Regions from separate parts of the Homo sapiens genome. Here regions 2 and 3 are each linked to region 1. Evidence: fine-mapped expression QTL. A gene starts in region 1. Each other region holds a variant in brackets. All regions are shown on one strand. Distances are between the middles of the regions.

Region 1 (4,222 bases):
TGTCAAGGGATGGTGTCTCACAAGAGGAGAGGAATTAGAGCCATCTGGGTTCTATATATTTTTTCAAGTTTGTACAACAAACATGTTACTTTTATAATCAGAAAAATATTTTAAAATAGTGCGAAAAATGCAATAAAAGAAGCAAGAAAAATAAACACATACCAGCACCCCCCCACCCCCCGTCTCAGTGTGGTAGGTGTGAGTCAGAAGTAAGAAGTAAATAAGTGTTGGCCGGGCGCCATGGCTCACACCCTAATCCCAACACTTTGGGAGGCTGTGGGCAGATCACTAGAGGTCAGGGGTTCGAGACCAGCCTGGCCAACATGGTGAAACTCCGTGTCTACTAACAGTACAGAAATTATCTGGGTGTGGCGGTGCATGCCTGTAGTCCCAGCTACTTGGGAGGCTGAGGCAGGATCACTTGAACCCGGGAGGTGGAGGTTGAGCGAGCTGAGATCGTGCCGCTGCACTCCAGCCTGGGCGACAGAGACAGACTCCATCTCAAAACAAAGCAAGCACCGCCCCCCCCCACCCCACCCACAAAACAGTAAATAAATGTCAAGGAAGAAAAGGTCTTTGGAGGTGATGCTTGAATTGAGCATGGAAGAGTGAGTGGAGTGGGAAGATATTTTCCTAGGCAGAGCCAAGTGCGCAAAGATGCAGACAAGACCAGGGGAGGGCCTACAGAGTGGGAGGGGCCAGTCACTACTAGTTCGGTGTGTACAGAGCCTGTGGTGGTTGAGGGTGGAGAGCAGGTCTGTCCGATCCCCGCAAAGCCTGGAGGCTTCCTTTTGATACTGGGTGTGTTGTGGGAAAGCTGATTTCATTTGTCTTTTTGACTCACAGTTCTCCACGGATCTCCCGTTACGGAGACTGGGTCGTATTCACGCACTGCACCTAACTGACCAGGGCCCTGGCTGCTGTGCTCTGAACTCCAGCACTGGGATTGTGCCCAACGCCACCCTTCCCACCTGGCCGCTCCCAGCCAAGGACTGGTGGCGGCATGGACACGAAGGCAGGCAGGTTCCGGGGAGAATCGGGATCCCCATGATGCGTAATTTTGGCTGAAGGGCTCACGGATGATCTTGCTGAGCTTTTCTTAGACTGCAGGGAGGCCGGGATGGGTGCTTCCCTCCCTCCTTCACTTGGGCTCTGATTTGCAGAAGGTCCGGCCCTCTCCAGCTCTCACGGCTCCCTCCTCATTTAGTTCCACGGCCATTTCCCCCAAGAAAACCCTCCGCATCTAGTCCTGAGTGGGCGCTGCTTCTCGTAGGACCCACCCTAACACATGGCCTGCATCTACCTTCCCTTCCCTCTCCTCTCCAGGGTGCAGCCTTTTTCAAGGCGAGGAGAGTGATTCCAGGCAGCTTTCATTCCTGGGTCTCCTTAGCTCCCTCGCCCTTCCCAGCATCTGGGCCCACTGGGCCACTCAGGCTTTTCTAATAAAAATCGCAGCTTTGGCCCAGTGCGGTGGCTCACGCCTGTAAGCCCAGCACTTTGGGAGGCCGAGGCGGGTGGATCACCTGAGGTCGGGAGTTCGAGACCAGCCTGACTAACATGATGAAACCCCCATCTCTACTAAAAATACAAAATTAGCCGGGCGTGGTGGCGCGTGCCTGTAGTCCCAGCTACTCGGGAGGCTGAGGCAGGAGAATCGCTTCAACCCAGGAGGCGGAGGTTGCGGTGAGCCGAGATCACGCCATTGCACTCCAGCCTGGGCAACAAGAGCGAAACTCAGTCTGAAAAAATAATAATAAAAATCGCAGCTTCTCCACCTGGAAAGTCCCAATTCGACTGGGTCTTGGAGTGCCGACTCGATTGCCATCTCCGCTGCGAAGCCATCTCCTCTCAGAAGGGGAAGGAGATGGAAAGTCTCTGCGGCCGCTGACCTCAGTTTTGCGTGCCTTTCCTCGGTGGGACCCGGGAAGAGCCGTCTTTAAATTCCTTGGGGAAGGGACGGGGTCGCACTGGCGCATCGCATCCCCGGTAGCGGGCAGAGCCCCCAGCTCACAGTGAGCGCGTGCTCGATGTTTCTTGAATTGTTTTATTTGTGTTGTTCCAAAGAAAGCGCGAGGGACATGGTCCGGGACCAGCCGGGAGCTGGCGCGGGGGTCCTGGGCCTGACGCTGGGCGGGGCTGGGGCGTGTCCGGGGCGGGGCGGGGCGGGAGGTGCGGTCGCGGCTCGGGCCTGGCAGGCGCTGCGCGCGGGGCTGGGGCAGCGGTAACCGTAACTGTGGCCGCGGCCGCCGCAGGCGCACAGCGCGCGTCCAAGTGGAGAACAAAGTGACCCCCAGAACTTCTCCAACTCCTCCCGGCGTTCCCGCGAGGGCCACGCGCCGAGGGTAGCGGAGGGCGGCGCGCGACCGGCCCCACCGAGCCCGGCGCGCGACCCGAGGTAAGGGGCGCCCGGGTGAGGGCGCAGGAGGGCGACGACCCGCGCTGGTTGGCGGCGGCTCCAGGTCCCCTGCGGGCGGGGCGGCGCGCGGCCGGCGGTCCCCTCCCTTCCCCTTTGTTGGCCGCCCCTCTCTGCCCCCGCTTTCCTGGGAGTCCCGCGGAAGGTCGCGGCTGCGGGGCGCGGCCTGGCACCCTCTCCCCGGAGGGCGGCAGCGTCCGGGCACAGCCTGGCACGGGGGACGAAGCACTTTCCAGAAGGCTCTGAAACTAGGTCCCCTGGTCCCCTCGCGCTGCGCGACACGCCAGGACCCACTTTCAGCCCCGGTCCCATCCCGGATGGGAGGAGGCGGCGCCCCGGCCTCCTGATACCGAGGTTCTCGCCCAAAGCCGAGCCGTGGGTGCCCGGAGGGGAGCGCCCGCTGCGCCCACGCCCGCCCGGCGACCTCGGAGCCTCAGAAAGGCGCTGCGGCGAAGCAGGATCCCAGGCGGTCGGCTCAGCGAGTGTAGACCGTGCGGTCCCTGCTCAGCCCCTCCGGCCTTTCCGAGCGCGGGAGCCATCCCGGACGGGCGCGGCTCCTGGGGGGGCTGAGGTGCCAAGTTTCTGTGAAAGCCGACACGTTGTGCCCCTAATGGATCCTATTTACCAAAAACAGTTCAGAAAGAAAAGAGTCCATTCTTCCAGCCATTCGTTGCTGACAGCCGCTGGAAAGGTCTGGGAGTAACATTGCACGAGGTATTTCTATCTTTAAGGAGCGGCGAAATTTAATATTGATGAGCTTGCATGCCGTTTTTTTAAAATAGACAAATAGGTTAACTTTATTTAAAGAGGGAGAAGGCTGCTTGATTCCAAAGATAATTTCATTCAGGGGGAGGTTTTCCTGCTTTTCTCTGCAGAATTCAGGCAAGAGGCCACTTGGTGACACTCCTCAGCCTCCTTGGGTAATGGTGAGACCTTTATTTACTATGCGATGAAGGGCCTGGGATTCTCTTCTCATGGTTATTCACACATTCTACCTTTTGCTCCCCAAATGATGCTGACCACCTTATTTTAACAGACAACACCGGCTATCTCCAGTTCTCTTTCCAATAGATTTAAGCCAGAGTGTCTCTAAAATCTTACCAAGTTTCGTACAGGTGCGGATCATATGCTATAAATGTTTCAGTCCTAGGCTCTGGATAAAAAAGTGTCCATGGTTTTATAATTTGGGCTTAACCAGTAGAACTTGTGTGTATACACTCTTAGAAGTATTTCCTGATGTGCTTAAGATTGTTATGTTTTAAAAATATAGTATCATGATTGGTGCAGTTTTGTAAGCAAACTTTTGTTCCACCGGATTTTACCTGCTCACTTTATAGGAAAATAAAACTTGTTGCTTTAGGGTGTCAGAGGTTTTTGTGTTGGGTAAATGTAAAAGAACATGGCAAGGTATAACTGAAGAAGAGTTTATTATTTACTGTGGCAAAACACGCCCCTAATGACCTCAGAATCAGCTTTCAACACCTTCACATACCATACTAAGATGCTTCATAATGTGGCACCTGCCTGCCTTTCCAGTTCCATCTACTGACTTTCCCCAGGCCTCCTGGCTCTCCCCCGCTTGCACACTGCCTGCTCTAGACACACCAAGCTACTCAGAAGTTGTTATTTCCAGACCATTGTTTGGAATGAATGAAATTCTGCTTACACTGTTCTTACTCCTCTTGCCCATCTGTCAATTACCCACGCATTCTTAATGTGTCAGTCAAATACCTTCTCTAGGAAGCTTTTCTTCCTTATCCGTAGGCGAAGTTAAGCTCCTCCTCCTCCAGTAGTCAGTGCTTCTACTAG
Region 2 (4,222 bases), 190 kb after region 1:
CTCAGCCGGATATTTATAAGCGACGTTCTTCCCGATGGCCTGGCGTATGGGGAAGGTCCGTGTGGCACACCGTGCCCCTGTTGCCTCTTAATTTGAAACTGTGGGATACAGTCTGGCTAGTGAATGTTTCTTCTTACAGTTTTGTCAGAAAAAGGTTGCTCCTGGAATTTTAAAGAAAGTAAACGTAAGAGTTTAATTGGAAATGCGACCAAACACAGCGGCTCGCTCGCATAAACCCAGCTGCTCAGGAGGCTGAGGTGGGAGGATGGGAGGATTGCTTGAGCCCAGGAGCCCAAGACCAGCCTGGGAGACAGAGTGAGACTCCTGCCTCCGTAAAAAAGGACAGAGAGAGAGAAAAGAAAGAAAATGCATATGCCTATATATAGAGAGAGCATGTGTGTGTGTGTGTTTAAAAGAGTAAGTGTATACATATATATAGACAGAGGGAAGGAGGAAGAGAGTGTGAGACAGACAGGCGGACACGGATGGAACAAAGTTAACATGGGAACACTAGAAAAAACAACGAATGAGTGGTTCTCAGGAGGCTGAGGCACAAGAATCTCTTGAACCGGGGAGACAGAGGTTGCAGTGAGCTGAGATCTTTCAAACTGTTTCTTCGAATAGTAGCTGTGAGAGAGCTAACATTTGTTTTGCTCTTAGTGGCATCTAAATACTATACATTTTGGCCCTTTAATTCTTTTTTGTTTTTCTTATTTAAAAGACGAAGTCTTGCTATATAGCCCCAGGCTGGCCTCAAACTCCTGGGCTCAAGTGATCTTCCTGTCTCTGCCTCCTGATTAGCTGGGACTACAGGCACCTGCCACTGTGCCTGGCTGGCACTTTCTTTGAAGAAAGCAACAAACAAAACAGTCCCTACGAGTACATGGTTTGAGTTTGCAGCCTTCTTTCATCTGAAAATATTTCTCACAGTAATCCCTCTCTCTTTTTTCTGTTTCTCCTTCCTTTTTCTCAGGGCTGAGAAAGGGCAATGAGATCATGACCTTAAATGGGGAAGCTGTGTCTGATCTTGACCTTAAGCAGATGGAGGCCCTGTTTTCTGAGAAGAGCGTCGGACTCACTCTGATTGCCCGGCCTCCGGACACAAAAGCAACCCTGTGTACATCCTGGTCAGACAGTGACCTGTTCTCCAGGGACCAGAAGAGTCTGCTGCCCCCTCCTAACCAGTCCCAACTGCTGGAGGAATTCCTGGATAACTTTAAAAAGAATACAGCCAATGGTAAGGCTTTGTTCTGTCTTCCTTCTTAACTGCTGGTATCAACAGCCAATATTTTTAGGCTGTAATTTTGCTTGCAAACTCAGATTATTTAAGCTGTTCAAAGAATGTTTTCTAATTTATTAGAAGAACACAGATGCCAACTGGAGTAGATTTTATCAAAATTTCATGCGTTTTAGTAATTATAGCGCTTTCATTAAAATAGAAAATAATTATTTTTGCACAAAATAACATTTAAAAAAAAATCATGGACTCTTTAAAAATCACCCATAATGTTTAGTCTTGTAGTTCCTTTGTGACTGAAGGCAGATGAAAGCCTGCATAAATGCCAAAGTGGAAAGATTTTTCTTATTTAGTTGAATCTAAGGCACAACCATTTTGCAGTCTTCTGTTGGGCTCTTAGAACAGCCCGTGCATTTCAGTTCAGTTATATCTTTTGTTAAGTACTACTTTATTAATAAACAGCAAACTTTCTTTTTTAAAATTTATTTTTATTTTTATTTTTTTTTGAGACAGAGTCTCACTCTGTCACCCAGGCTGGAGTGCAGTGGCACAATCTCAGCTCACTGCAAGCTCTGTCTCCCGGGTTCAAGAGATTCTCGTGCCTCAGCCTCCTGAGTAGCTGAGACTACAAACGTGTACCACCATGCCTCGCTAATTTTTGCATTTTTAGTAGAGGTGGGGTTTCA[G/C]CATGTTGCCCAGACTGGTCTCAAACTCCTGACCTCAGGTGATCTACCCGCCTCGGTCTCCCAGAGTGCTGGGATTACAGGCATGAGCCACCGTGCCTGGCCAGTAAACAGCAAACTTTTAATGTAGGTCATGAATTTTAAAACTTTGTGAAGGCCTAAAAATGAAAAACTGTGTGCCAGTTTAGTTTTCTCACGGTAAGACTTCCATATGAGGAAATCATTTGAAGGTCTGAAGTTTTGAGTTGATCATTCATGTGTATTTCATGTACTGCAGTCAAGTAAATTAGGGGCTCGGCTAGTACTGAAAACCAGTAGTTTCGCTTTATACCTCTGGAGAGCCCGGGTCAAGCTCCACAGGAGACCAAGTGTGGGGTCTTTTTCCTGGGAGAACACAGAGCAATTTTTATACTTAATTACGATAATAATGGATTTCCAATTGAAATCTCTGCATGATTACCAAAAATGAATGAAAAAACACCAAAGAGAAGTTGTTAGGATTGATTTAATTATAAAGGAAGTTTATTAGGTCATTTTTGGAATTAAAAAATCAGATGGTAAGATTTGCGATTCAATAAGGTATCTCGTGCTTTCTCCTCCTCTCTTGGGGCTTTCCTCTAATTTAAAATGCCATTAAATGGACTATTGGCATATAAAAGTGAATGTCATAAAACAAAAATTATGATGGAACTTATTAATTACTTGGGTATATTAGGGCCATCATTCAGCTACCCTGGGCTGCTGTTATGGGCCTGAGTATTCCATATAATACATACATGTGTCCATTTGTTGGATTCATTACTCTTGAGGGATACATTCACTACCTGTGTTATGTCTCTATGTATTTTATCATAATAAGAAATTACCACAGAGGCTATAATACTTTTGGTACTTGCGGGAATGAATTCCTGTAGAAAGTAGAGAAAGGGGCAAATTTACCTTTTTTTTTTTTTTTTTTTTTTTGAGACAGTCTTGCTCTGTCACCCAGGCTGGAGTGCAGTGGCGCAATCTTGGCTTAGTGCAACCTCCACCTCCCGGTTTCTAGTGATTCCCTTGCCTCAGCCTCTGAAGTAGCTGGGACTACAGGAACATGCCACCACGCCTGGCTAATTTCTGCGTTTTTAATAGAGATGGGGTTTCACCATGTTGGCCAGGCTGGTCTTGAACTCCTGACCTCAAGCGATCCACCCTCCTCAGCCTCCCAAAGTGCTGGGATTACAGGTGTAAGCAACCGCGCCCGGCTGTTTTTCTTTTCTTTTTAAATTTTTTTTTAAATAGTAAGGATCAAGCAGGTGAGTTAAGCCACTTTTATTTATTTATTTATTTATTTATTTATTTATTTATTTATTTATTTATTGGCAAGGAAACAGAATAAAGAGGCAGTCCTGGATCTGTTAAATAGCTATTCTATTACTCATCTTAGGCAGCCATTCGGACTGTCTAATCCTTTACAACCAATGTCTGTGTGGACAGAGAGCTTAGTTAGCCAGGCAGGCACGGTGCTTGTCCACATCACGTCCTCCTGATGGAATCTTGCAGGTTCTTCCACTACCAGCCTAGTGGGAGCCACTAACCCTTTCCTGGTGTCCTGGCAAGACTGTGCTCTGTGGGTGTGACAGTCTCCCAGGCAGCGCCCCGCCCACCTCTGCCCTGAGCTTTACCATTCCTCCCCTCTCCTAAGCTCCAGGTGGCTGTTCCATAGTGATGTCGCCTGTGCTGGAAAAAACAGCCCCAGCAGACTCCTTCCCCAGACACCACAAACAGAGGCTTTTCTTTTTCTTTTCGAGGTAGTTGCGTTGCTTGTGAAGGAAGTTACATGCCTTTGGGCAAACATCTCAGAAGGAAGTCTTCCATTTTGAAGGTTGAGGGGAAAAGAAAATAAGGGTAGGTGGGTGGATTAAAAGATAAAAGTGAAAAAAGACCAGGTCTCTCATTCATATGCAACATCTGAATGACAAGAGAAGCCTGTGTTTGTGGAAACTCTGAGAGATGGCAGGGTGACAAGCATACAGGTTTTGAGTCAGACGTGGGTTCAGGTCCTGGGCTGCCCTATACTGGTTTTTTGACTCACCCAGGGAGTTCTGGGCTTTGGTGGATGCTACCCCAGCCTCTTTACCCTGGTGGAAACGGTTCTGAGGTGCAGTCTACACAGCTCTGCAGATGGGCCCTGGAATGAGCCCCAGCTGTACACAGCAGCCTCGCTTTCACACCTCCCATGGGCTTCCTGCCCTTCTTGCCTCACTGTCCCTACCCCTTCCTTTGGGAATCTCGGGGTCACCTTCCAAATAAACTTCTGTACTCA
Region 3 (4,222 bases), 230 kb after region 1:
ATATTTACCCAGGGGGGTGGGTGTAGTGTCGCATTATTCATTCACTCATTAAATCCCCTTCACCGAGGCCTGCTCAGATGCTTGCCATTGTTCAAAGTTCTGAAATCGTCACCTGGCTGCCTTCTGTCAATATTCTTGCGTAGAGATTGTAGTCCAATGAAAACCTTGTACTGAGTGAAAGAAGATGTGTTTGAGTTTCAAGGCATTTTCTGTGCCTTTCATGACTCATAGCAGATTCTCACCTTGTGATAAAGTTCCGGCTCCACAGTGGTGGCTGCTTTTGCTTTTGCAAAAGTAAGTTGTGAGAAATTGTTCTGAGTCATTTTGCAATTTCCTCTATAGACTCAGCTAAGAGTAGATGTGTGTGTCATGAGTAGATGTGTCTGGAGTTGAGGGAGGAGGGGTCATGGAAAAACTCTGCCTGGAAGTGCTTCATCCAGGTACACATGATGGTATTTTCACCATCTCAAACACTAGCTTCTAACTGCTGAAGGTTAAGATGGGATCATTCGTTTTGTAAATCCGTCTCCTGCTGTCTTGATAATAACATGAAGAAAAGGGCAAGAAAAACATGGATGTGTCATTAGTATGGAAGGAAGGAGGAGAATGGAGGTTTGTTTTAAAGGCACCCCCAATTCTCTTTCCCTCTTTCATCCTTTCGTTGGTTCTTGCCCCTTCCACACCCCGACTGTGTTTGTTCAGCCTCCAGCGCATGCTGCCGCCTCTGCTATTCACCTGCCTTTGCGCTCTCTCATTCTTTGCTGCCACCTGAGTCCTCTGGTGTTTTCAGAAAACAGCTGGCAGAGGAGGAGGCTCTGAGATGTGCAGTTGCTTAGAAGGTTCTGGCCTGGCATCTGCACAGCGGGGATTTCATCACCAACTGCTCAGAAACCACAAATGCTGCATGCCTGGAGGAGTCCTGCCATCTTCCTACCTTGCATGCCACTCTCAGCTGGTTTTGGGATTTTCTATTTATTTGTTTGTTTGTTTGTTTGAGATGGGTCTCGCTCTGTCACCCAAGCTGGAGTGAAATGGTGCGATCTTGGCTGACTGCAACCTTTGCCTTCCAGGTTCAAGCAGTTCTCCCACCTCAGCCTCGCATGTAGCTGGGATTACAGGCATGCACAACTGCACACAGCTAATTTTTGTATTTTTGGTAGAGATGGGGTTTTGACATGTTGTCCAGGCTTGTCTCGAACTCCTGACTTCAGATGATCCACCCACCTCGGCCTCCCAAAGTGCTGGGATTACAGGCATGAGCCAATGCACTCAGCTGGGATTTTTAAGAGTTTATTCCCTTCTTGGTTCATTCAGGCATAGATAAAGGGCAGTCTGAGGGCCCGGGTGACACACCCATCAGGACAGGTTGGTGCTCTGCCTTCCTCTCATTTGAGCACCGAGGTCTTGAATTTGGGGCTTATACAGATGAGTTACCAAGATGGGGAAAGGTGGACCATCAAGCAGTAATACAACGTGAGGCTTACAGGTAACTTCTAAGTGTGGGGCTTTAAAGAAAGTCTCTGTTCACATTCTGTCACCCTCACTCTGTCTCTTCCATCTTTTTCTTGCCTGAGTGTCCTGGTTCTGCTGCCTTCTCTAGATCCCCAGCTCTTCTCACCACCAGGGATACCTGGCTTTGGTTCCCATGTATTTATTGATTTCTATTTTTAAGAAGTTTGATCAAAACTGTCAAGTTATTTATTGAAAATGATAGTTGTCTTAGTTTAAATCTTATTCCATTTCTGTTAGAAGTCAGTGTAGATTATAGAGTGGTAAAGTCTCAGATAAATACTTATATAAATAAAGATAGGTATTGTTCCATATAAGATTATCATTATTTTGAGAACCTGTTGATGAGGGTGCCAGATGTGACTGTTGCATTACTCAAATCCAGCAAAAAACACTGAACAAAAACCATAATTAAAGGGGCACACAGGGTATCTGTGCTCACTTTAAGGCAA[G/C]TAGCCCTTGGCAGTACCCCTGCTTAATTAAGGTTGCCAGGATATTAACATGTAATTGATGTTTTATATACTTATAACTTTCCTCCCAGAAGCTACAATTTTTTTGAAACCAGATTCCAAGCATTGTTTTAAGCCAATATTAGAAGAGAAAGTGTAGGGCTTTCTAAGCATGAAGAGGATGTGATTTCAGACGAAATCATAGCACCTGGACCCTGTCTCCCTGCCCCCATCCCATTCTTCATAAGCGATGAAAAGCATCTTTGATCCATGAAACCTGAAAAAGCAGCCATCAGTAGAAGTAAGTGTGACGGCTGAAGGTGTCATAAGATACTAATGTACCAGTGGGGAATGGGATGCAAGGCTGCTCAGCCTCAGTAGCCCCCTTGGCTGGCTGAGCATCTTTGTGGGCTCCGCTTTTAAGTGGAAACAAAAGATTGCTGATGGTAGGTTGGGTGTGGTGGCTCACGCCTGTAATCCCAGTACTTTGGGAGGCCGAGGCAGGTGGATCACTTGAGGTCAGGAGTTTGAGACCAGCCTGACCAACATGGTGAAACCCCATCTCTACTAAAAAAAATTAGCTGGGTATGGTGGTGCACGCCTGTAATCCCAGCTACTCAGGAGCCTGAGGCAGGAGAATCACTTGAACCCAGGAGGCGGAGGTTGCAGTGAGCAGAGATCGTGCCACTGCACTCCAGCCTGAGCAACAAGAGTGAAACTGCATCTCGGGTGGGGGCGGGGGGCAGGGAAGAAAAAAAGATTGCAGATGGTGAAATTTAAATGCTTAAAAAAATCTTTAAGAACTCATAATTTGCCTGCAACAAATTCAGGTGGTGACATAGTCCCTTTCATTCCCCCAAGTCAGAGCCCGTGCCCCTGTGTGTCTGTCCCCATCAGTGAAACTGGGGCTTGGTTTCTTCTGGAGAAGAATAATCCAGGGCAAGTCAAGCTGTTTGTTTTGCGCCCCTGTCTCTGTTGCTGAGTTGCTGTCACCTTGAGTTGGCTCTGACTGTCCCGTGGCGAAGGCCATCCCAAACAGCACATTTGCAGTATGTGCTCGGAGAGTGGGATACATAAGAAACAGGAGAGTTAACTAGAAGGATTTTCCCTCCTGCTCTACTAAGTTGGAAAGGAAAGTAGATGTTTGTCTCTTAATTTGCTGTTGCACAAAGTGAAAAGATACTTGGACCAGAATTGCTGGAGCTTTCCATGCACTCACAGTGGGCTTTGGAAAAATCATTCACTCCCTTGAATCCTTATTTGTTAAGAAAGTGGGATTCCATTTCCACAACTGTTTCATGGCTGTGAGGTGAAATAAAGACTAGGCATGCGGAATGGCTTTGTAAACTGCAGGGGTGCTGAGTCAGTCTGCGGAGACTTAGCCCATGGCGAATACAATGTGTTTTAAATACATCACTTCATTTAAACCCGTTTTCCCCACAACCCTATTGAACAGATATTACCAGCCCCATTTAGCATGAGAAAACTCAAATTCAGAGATGTCAACTAGCAGGCCAGTGTGTCCTAGGCAGTGACTGTACCACGGATCGCGCCCAGCCCTGCCAGCTTCTAAAGCACTTCTTCCCATGACACCACACTGCCTCGTAAGGAGAATATGGCACTGCGTGTAGAAGAAAGGGGAGAAAACTGTATTTAAGTATCAGACTCATGGCATATGGGTGTATTTACTCTTCAATTGATTTAAAGGTAGAGCGACTGTATTTGTGAAATTGCAAGGTACGATGTTAGAAATCTGGACACGACTTTTTGGTTCTTTAGCTTAATTTACAAAGTTGGTTACACCCCCGTCGACAAGAGGAATCTGTGAGGATATAGAGATCCAAGGCTTATGTTCCAAAAGCAGGTAGACTGTGACAGCTGGAGAGAGCCAGCAGAGGATGCAGCCTCCTCAGCAGTCTAGAAGCACATCTAAGATGCCCAAGGAGTGTCGGCAAGGAACTGGAATGGGCGCAACCGAATTATTTTCTGAGCATCTTAGAACTATTATCAGAGCAGAGTGCTTGGTCTGTACCTGGGAGCCAGGTGCTGCTCTATTTTTTGTTTCGTTTTCTAGGTTAAGGCAGCCGGGAACCCACATGGATTACAACTAGAAAGAAAATCAATTTCTAGGGAGCCAGAGAAAGGGAGGAAGGGCTTAGTGAAGGGAGAGTCTGGGCTCAGGTAGTTGGGCAGAGCTGTCCTAAGCAAAGCTGGGTGGACACAGCCTGAACTGCTAAGCCTAAGTATGTGGGATCTCCCCCTTC

Evidence for each region. PIP is the estimated chance that this variant, and not a neighbour inherited with it, causes the effect. A credible set is the group of variants that fine-mapping cannot tell apart.
Region 2: its variant is the best candidate, but not a certain one, in a credible set for the expression of TIAM2 in lymphoblastoid cells (GEUVADIS, PIP 0.80).
Region 3: its variant is fine-mapped to the expression of TIAM2 in whole blood (TOPMed, PIP above 0.99).

What each region holds. Positions count from the first base shown.
Region 1 is chr6:154,993,098-154,997,319 of GRCh38, forward strand. It overlaps TIAM2 (TIAM Rac1 associated GEF 2), which reads left to right and starts at 2,218. Exons shown (of 27, transcript NM_012454.4): 1 at 2,218-2,395. RefSeq lists enhancers at 2,112-2,719, 2,720-3,325 and silencers at 2,166-2,305, 2,396-2,475.
Region 2 is chr6:155,182,264-155,186,485 of GRCh38, forward strand. It overlaps TIAM2 (TIAM Rac1 associated GEF 2), which reads left to right. Exons shown (of 27, transcript NM_012454.4): 13 at 1-55; 14 at 974-1,237. Among named protein-coding and RNA genes, the nearest start is that of CLDN20, 80 kb to the right of the region's middle. RefSeq lists enhancers at 3,096-3,903, 3,904-4,222. The variant G/C (reference allele first, on the strand shown) is at 1,924.
Region 3 is chr6:155,223,981-155,228,202 of GRCh38, forward strand. The region is part of intron 15 of TIAM2 (TIAM Rac1 associated GEF 2); the gene reads left to right. Among named protein-coding and RNA genes, the nearest start is that of CLDN20, 38 kb to the right of the region's middle. RefSeq lists an enhancer at 1-973. The variant G/C (reference allele first, on the strand shown) is at 1,962.